2 linked regions of the Homo sapiens genome follow. The protein of the gene in region 1 purifies or fractionates together with the protein of each later gene. This does not show direct contact. Each region holds a gene or a part of one and is shown in the gene's direction. Other genes may lie near its edges.

Region 1 (3,423 bases):
AATTATGTACCTTCCATTGGATAGTTAAAATAATTTCATTTTATAAGCCAATTTGAGTGGGAAAGATACAAAGCACACAGTTGTCTCCCCACATTAGGAAGAGTAGTGTGCATTCAGACATTCGGAATTTTTGCTAGTAGTTGGAGATGTTTCAGTGAGTGAATTAAAACAAAGTCTATTTAACTGACGTGATCTATTTTGTGTCTAAAACAGAGGAATTTATCTTGTCCTAGAAGTTCATGAACTATAAGATCTAAGTTTTTTTTTCTTTTTTAACAATAAAATGATTTTTTCTTAAAGTATCAAAGTTGGAATTGGCTAAAAGTGAAGTAGCATAACTCAGATATGTTGGAACTTGGTACTGAAGCAGGCTTTTTGGTAACAGAAATGACATTTTAAGGGGTAACTGTATATCCTGTTTTTAGTTCTTTGCCTCTCAGATTCTGTTAACTTAGTTTAAATTCACTGAATACCCTACCACTAAGGCGTTGCTCATTACAAAAGCATGTTAATTTCAATACAGGAAAACTCTTTTGTAGTTTTATATATGGATTGGGGAAAGTGACTTTGTTTTACTTTTCCTTTTTATTCCCCTCCATCCTCCAAACTTCCAATCTATATTATTTGTAATGAGAACTTTGGTGGGGGAAAAAAAGCATTAAGAGAATTTTGGATGTAAAGGCATCTGGTATCTGATGGACCAGCAGGTAGATGTGGTTGGATTGAGAAATTTTGGGTAAGGTAGATGATAGAAGAAAGAGATTTTAGGAGACACAGTTCTCTGTGGAACACTTTCTTTCATGTTCCTGTAACTAATTGATCAAGACCCTTTTAAACGCTTATCTTTGTCAGTTCCGCTTTTGAAAAAACTATTGCCCTAGGATTGTTTCTTCCATATGACAGATGAAGGTTATTGGCTCTGAGTCATTTTTGGCATTATCGTCACAGATAAAAAGATTGGCAATTAATCTCATAAAAAATCTGAATTATTCCAGATTGCTGCCGATTTTTGCCTAAGAAACAATATGTAAGTATATTTTATAAACCAAACTTTGTCAACCAATTCTATTGTACGTCTACCCACAGGCAACTTTGAATTTACTTCTCTAGTGCTAAATAAACATTTCAGCGATTTAATCCCCCAACTTGGGGGATGCATTATGAAAAGGTTTTCCTGGAGTCAAGGGGTTTTTCTTTCTCGCTAGTTTTGTGAAAATTTTTATATCAATAGGCAAATCATTATAACTTTTTAGGGGTTGATGGTTTTTAAGTATATTGGAAATTGTGGTGTCTAAGGATGATGTTCAGTGAAGAAAAGGGATCCACTTTTAGAAACCAGCATTGTTTGCTTTCAACTTTCATACTGTATGCTAACTCCTACGTTCCAAAATGTGCTCATTTGCAGACACAGGTATGCCTATATACATGGAAGTCTCAAATCTGAATTTTTATCCATCTCAATATGACCATTTCTCTCTGTTGTGAGCTGAACAGATTAAGTATATATCTGCCAGGTTGGGAAATATTTTGGTCTATCTTTTCCTGTCATCAGAACTTAATTTAAAAAAATTATCAAAGGTCAGATGTGACTACTACAGTAAGTTGGCTATCATAAAGAATATTCCATAAAATGTTTTATCTGCCATACAAAATTACTGGGTTTATGGCCGGATGTGGTGGCTCATGCCTGTAATCCCAGCAGTTCAGGATTACAGGTTATATACAGGTTATAACAATGGATACCAGGACATCAGAATATCTGATAAAGCAAATATTTATATGCTAATTTAAAATATCAAATTGCTACTGGACATAAAATACATCTGGAAGCTTGGGGTAAGAAGAAAGAAAAGAAGTGTTCCGTTCTGTTTTCAACTAAGGGTAAACGAAGTCCCAGAGTGTTTTCCCTGTAGGTCAAATTAAGGTAACATGTCTTTATTTGATCATCTATTGTACACCAGATACCTGGCTAAGGGCTTTCCTTTTTTCTCATGTAGTCTTCCAAATGTTCTTTGATAATTGTCACTATATTATAGATGACAAAGTGAAGACTTACGAGAAATTACTTTGCCCCAAGGTTACAACACTTAGATGGCTGTCCAAGGGCGGGGAAGAGCCCTGCAAATTCTGTGTCTTGAAGAAAGCAGTGGCCACGCAGTAGTTCCGTGCCCAGGATCTCCCAGAACTAGACTTGGCAACCACAGCTGGGCCAGCCTTTTTTGTTAGACCATTCTTCCTGACTCCTGCTTACCATCAGCACCCTTAAAATGACGAAATCAGGCTTAAGTTGCTTTTAGGTTACACAGACTGGAGTGTAGGCCCTCTCAGGCCAAACATCTTTCCTCTTCTGTGGTGCTAAAATTCTGTATGACCAGACAAGTATGGTAATAGGTTTTTTTTTTTTTTTTTTTTGTGCAAATGATTTTGTGTTTAGTAAAATAATGGCTAAACACATGGATCCATTCAAACGCACAAATGTGGAAAGTATTGACACGGAAGGAAAGGCTTTGAAGAATTACTGCCTCAGGAAGCAGTGCCATGGATGCGAATTTAACACAGTCTACTTCTTCCTAAAGGAATATCATCCCAAGGAATGTCAAAAATTAAAATCACCTTTTAATGTACTGGTTGTTGAGTGTTTCTGCTTTACCTCAAGTCATTCTGACCACTCTACATCCTGCTTCAAAGTGTTCTGACACTTAGATTTGGAATGGCTCTAATGATTCTTTGTACTTGAATGTGGTCTGTCAGGCCATGGGTGAGTGCCTTGCACATAGTAGACATTCAATAAATACTAAATGAAGGAATATGCATGCATCTTTGTGATGTTAGTAAAGGGTGCTTGATAAAAGAAAATTCAAAGGAATTCCCTTATGCTGTTACTTGAAACCAGGATCAACATCTTAAGCAAATGTCTCAACGTGTTTTATATGCAGTTACTTTTCAGAAGACATGATTTGACCTGAAGTTTACAAAATCAAACATTGTCATAGCAGAGGTCTGGTATTTAAAAACAAACAAAGTGTCTTAGAAAAGCTAGTGGCCGGGTGCGGTGGCTCATGCCTGTAATCCCAGCACTTTGGGAGGCCGAGGCAGGTGGATCACGAGGTCAGGAGATCGAGACCATCCTGGCTAATATGGTGAAACCTCGTCTCTACTAAAAGTACAAAAAACTAGCCGGGTGTGGTGGCGGGCGCCTGTAGTCCCAGCTACTTGGGAGGCTGAGGCAGGAGAATGGTGTGAACCCAGGAGGCAGAGCTTGCAGTGGGTGGAGATTGCGCCACTGCACTCCAGCCTGGGTGACAGTGCAAGACTCCATCTCAAAAAAAAAAAAAAAAAAAAAAGCTGATGGGTATATTTTACAGTAAAGAAAAAAATTTATTAATATCCAACCGACGTGGAAGCTGCTGGTTGCCTTAGGCT
Region 2 (3,654 bases), on another chromosome or scaffold:
AGAAATTGATTGAAATAGATTTGAGAAAAATGTAGAGGAGGAGGAGTATCCAGCCAAGCTAACCAAGTAAGACAGTGGAGTCACCAACTAAGAGACTACAGTGACAAGCTCAGAAGTGTAGATTGCAGGTGTAGATTAGGAAACTGTTTTTTGGGGATTTAAAAACCACTGGAGTAAATGAGAGTTTGTGAGGACAGTGGGCCAAGATGGAACCCCAGGGAGCAATTTGGTTGGCAAGATGGAAGAGAACATACCTATAAAATGTAGAGATCAGTTAGGTAACTATGGAAGAGGTGGCGACAGTTGTAGGCCATCTAGAGAAGTAGGAATACCAGAATGAATGGCTTCACTGTCAGCACTATATTTTGGGCCTTACCAAGCCGTTCTTCCTGTGCCACCTCTCCCACAAACATGCTAGTTTTGCTTAAGATTTGTCACCTCTGTGTATCCTTTTCCTGCCTCTTAGTCATTTCTTCCTTCTTTGCACACTTGTTTTAGGTTGTCACTTGGTGATGGTGCCACTGTGCTTTTATTTTCCCCCTTTAAGACCATGAGCATCTTACAAGTTAAGCAACATTTTATTCATCTTTAATGTCCCCAGAACCCAAGTATATTATGATGCTTAATAAATGTCTGTTAAATGGCTAGCATGTAACAAATGTCAGGAATGTAGTAGGTGTCAAGTTAGATTGTGAAGTGGATGTGAAGTAGATGCACTTCTGTGCAAAAGCTATCATTCAGAGGCAGAGATCTATGCTTTCAAATCTTGAAATTCATATGGTCTGTGGCTGTGTATTTTATATGTTAGGATATTGCCTACAATTTACATCTTATGTCTTAGAATGCTTGCTGCTTTGAAGAAATTTGAAAAAGATTCTTAAGAAAAATTTAGTCTTTGAGCCCCTAATTTGCGAGCATGATTTTTTTTCTTAAACCACAGCAGTTCAAACATGTGGTTAAGGGGGAGCTCACCAGTGAGCAAGGTGATTATGAGCTGCTCATTTATAAGGTTAAAAGAAATCATTTATAAGGTTAAAAGAGAGGTCTATTCTTTTTTTTAAACAATGTAAATATGAACAGTTGTCTATTTCTGGCACATTCTGTGTTTTAATAGGAAATATTATTAGAAACTGAACACTTAAACTTAGCAGTGCCATTAAGATACTGACATACTGTAAATTAAAATTTTCATGAAATCTCCCCCCACTCCCCGTTTTTTTTTTTTTTTTTAGGAAGTTCAGTACCTGCTTCAAGTAGCAGCACTGTACCTGTCTCTCTGCCTTCTGGAGGCTCTCTAGGATTGGAAAAGTTCAAGAAACCCGAGGGAAGCTGGGACTGTGAATTGTGCCTAGTGCAGAATAAGGCAGACTCTACCAAATGTTTGGCATGTGAAAGTGCAAAGCCAGGCACAAAATCTGGGTTTAAAGGTAAGGCCAAAAAAATAAAAATAAAGGTGATGGTAAAGCGCCTTTTTGTAAGGCCATTTAAAAATGAAGTATTTGAGAACAGCTTCAGTGTTCACTCATTCTCTCTTGAAAATTAATATAAAATGAGATTATCCTGAGATGTTTTAGTTATATCTGTTTCTGAATATTGTAAGGTCATATTAGTTGCTTGTCAACAGTGAGGTATCTTTTCTCCAGGTGGGAAAAAAAATTTCTTGTGTCATTGAGCCTCAGAGAGTTTTTGTTTTTTGTTTTTAACTGCTAGCCCCCTAGGTGAACTGTTCTTTGTTTTTTTGTTTGTTTGTTTTTTTGTTTGTTTGTTTGTTTGTTTTTGAGACAGTTTTGTTCTTTTGCCCAGGCTGGAGTACGGGGGCGCGATCTCTGCTCACTGCAATCTCCGCCTCCCAGGTTCAAGCAATTCCCTGCCTCAGCCTCCCAAGTAGCTGGGATTACAGGTGTGAGCCACCGCGCCCAGATGAACTTACTGACTTTTATTTGACTGGGAATACACCTCTAAATTAAAAGCGATACAGGCTGTGGCTTTGGTTTCCCAAAGTAGGTCCCAGGAAAAGAACTCTTAATATTTTACTATATAAGTACAAAGGAAGACTCCCTCAAAGTAATTAATCCTAAACTAACTGGAGGCCAGATTTTTGTGTTTTTTTTGAGATGGTGTCTTGCTCTGTCGCCCAGGCCGGAGTGCAGTGGCCGATCTCTGCTCACTGCAAGCTCCGCCTCCTGGGTTCATGCCATTCTCCTGCTTCAGCCTCCCGAGTAGCTGGGACTACAGGAACCTGCCACCACGCCTAGCTAATTTTTTGTGTTTTTAGTAGAGACGGGGGTTTCACCATGTTAGCCAGGATGGTCTCAATCTCCTGACTTCGTGATCCACCCGCCTCGGCCTCCCAAAGTGCTGGGATTACAGGCGTGAGCCAACACGCCTGGTCTGGAGGCCAGATTTTTCAAGTCTTCTGTAAAAGAGTAAGCCCGCAAGGAGAAAATGTGTGAGGATTAATGTCTTGAAACAACTCAGACAGATATTTCATCTTCTTACTTATAAGTTGTAGCTAAATAAAGTGTACTCAGTGGACAGAGTGTAGACCCCTAGAACGGTGAGAGGATGGGATGGGGGGTAGATGATGAGAAATTAATTAATGGGCACAATGTACATTATTTGGGTGATGAATATACTAAAAGCCCAAACTTCACTGCCAGGCAACATATCCATGTAACAAAATTGCACTGGTAATCCTTAAATTTATACAAATTAAACAAAAATAATAGCAAGCTTTATCTACTTTGTAATTAGCTTTCAAACTCTTGATTGCAAACCAAAAGTCAGGAATAAACCTTTTATATTGTGAGCCATCACCTGCACAGCGTATATGTCTATATGATTGAAATCTGTTTTGCAAAATAATACTTGCCTCTGGTAGGTGTAAGGTTCCCTGGTATTTTCTGTTTTATTTTATTTTAAAAGAGAAGTGCTGGTTGCAGCCTGCTAAATTAATTGATGATTAATGGTATACAACTAGCAGTTTGAAAAACACTGCATTTAAGTGTTTTAGAAGTTTGTGCTTTCTGGTTCATTTTATCTCTTTCTGTAGCTGTTAATTCATGCTCCCCTTTTTATACTGTTCTCTACCTGTAGTGTGGTAATCACCATACTTTTAAGTATCTTAGTACTTCTTAATGATCCTTGTTTTGAGCCAGTAGGTCAAGTACTTCATTTCTGATTTCCTTAGCTGCAGAAAAGCATTATGAAACCAAGACTTTGATCTTGTCAGTATAATGCTTGCTCTCTTCTCTTTTCTCTTCTCTCCTCTCTCTTCTCTCCTGTCTTCTCTCTTCTCTCCTCTCCCCTCTCCCCTCTCCCCTCCCTTCTCCCCTCCCCTCTCCCCTCTTGTCTCCCCTCCCCTCTCGTCTCCCGTCTCCTCTGCTCTCCTCTGTTTTCTTTTCTTTATTTATTTTGAAGTGGAGTCTCACTGTTGACCGGGCTGGAGTGCTGTGGCGCAATCTTGGCTCACTGCAACTTCTACCTCCCGGGCTCAAGCAATTCTCCTGCCTCAGCCTCTCAAGCAGCTGAGACTACAGGCACAGACCACCATGCCTGGCTGATTTTTTTTGTATTTTTAGTAGAGATGGGGTTTCGCCATGTTGGCCAGGCTGGTCTTGAACTCCTGACCTCGGGTGATCTGCCCGCCTTGGC

The links. Proteins that work in one complex are often made in the same cells at the same time.
Region 2: the proteins of KPNA1 (region 1) and NUP153 purify together in Homo sapiens (affinity purification with mass spectrometry; 3 studies listed by BioGRID and IntAct, with this or other methods). This does not show direct contact.

The regions. Positions count from the first base shown.
Region 1 is NC_000003.12:122,421,335-122,424,757, reverse strand, and holds the end of KPNA1 (importin subunit alpha-5), read left to right. Parts: 3' UTR 1-2,856; downstream 2,857-3,423. UniProt on the Homo sapiens protein: Functions in nuclear protein import as an adapter protein for nuclear receptor KPNB1. Binds specifically and directly to substrates containing either a simple or bipartite NLS motif.
Region 2 is NC_000006.12:17,630,423-17,634,076, reverse strand, and holds part of NUP153 (nuclear pore complex protein Nup153), read left to right. Parts: intron 1-1,232; coding exon 1,233-1,427; intron 1,428-3,654. UniProt on the Homo sapiens protein: Component of the nuclear pore complex (NPC), a complex required for the trafficking across the nuclear envelope. Functions as a scaffolding element in the nuclear phase of the NPC essential for normal nucleocytoplasmic transport of proteins and mRNAs.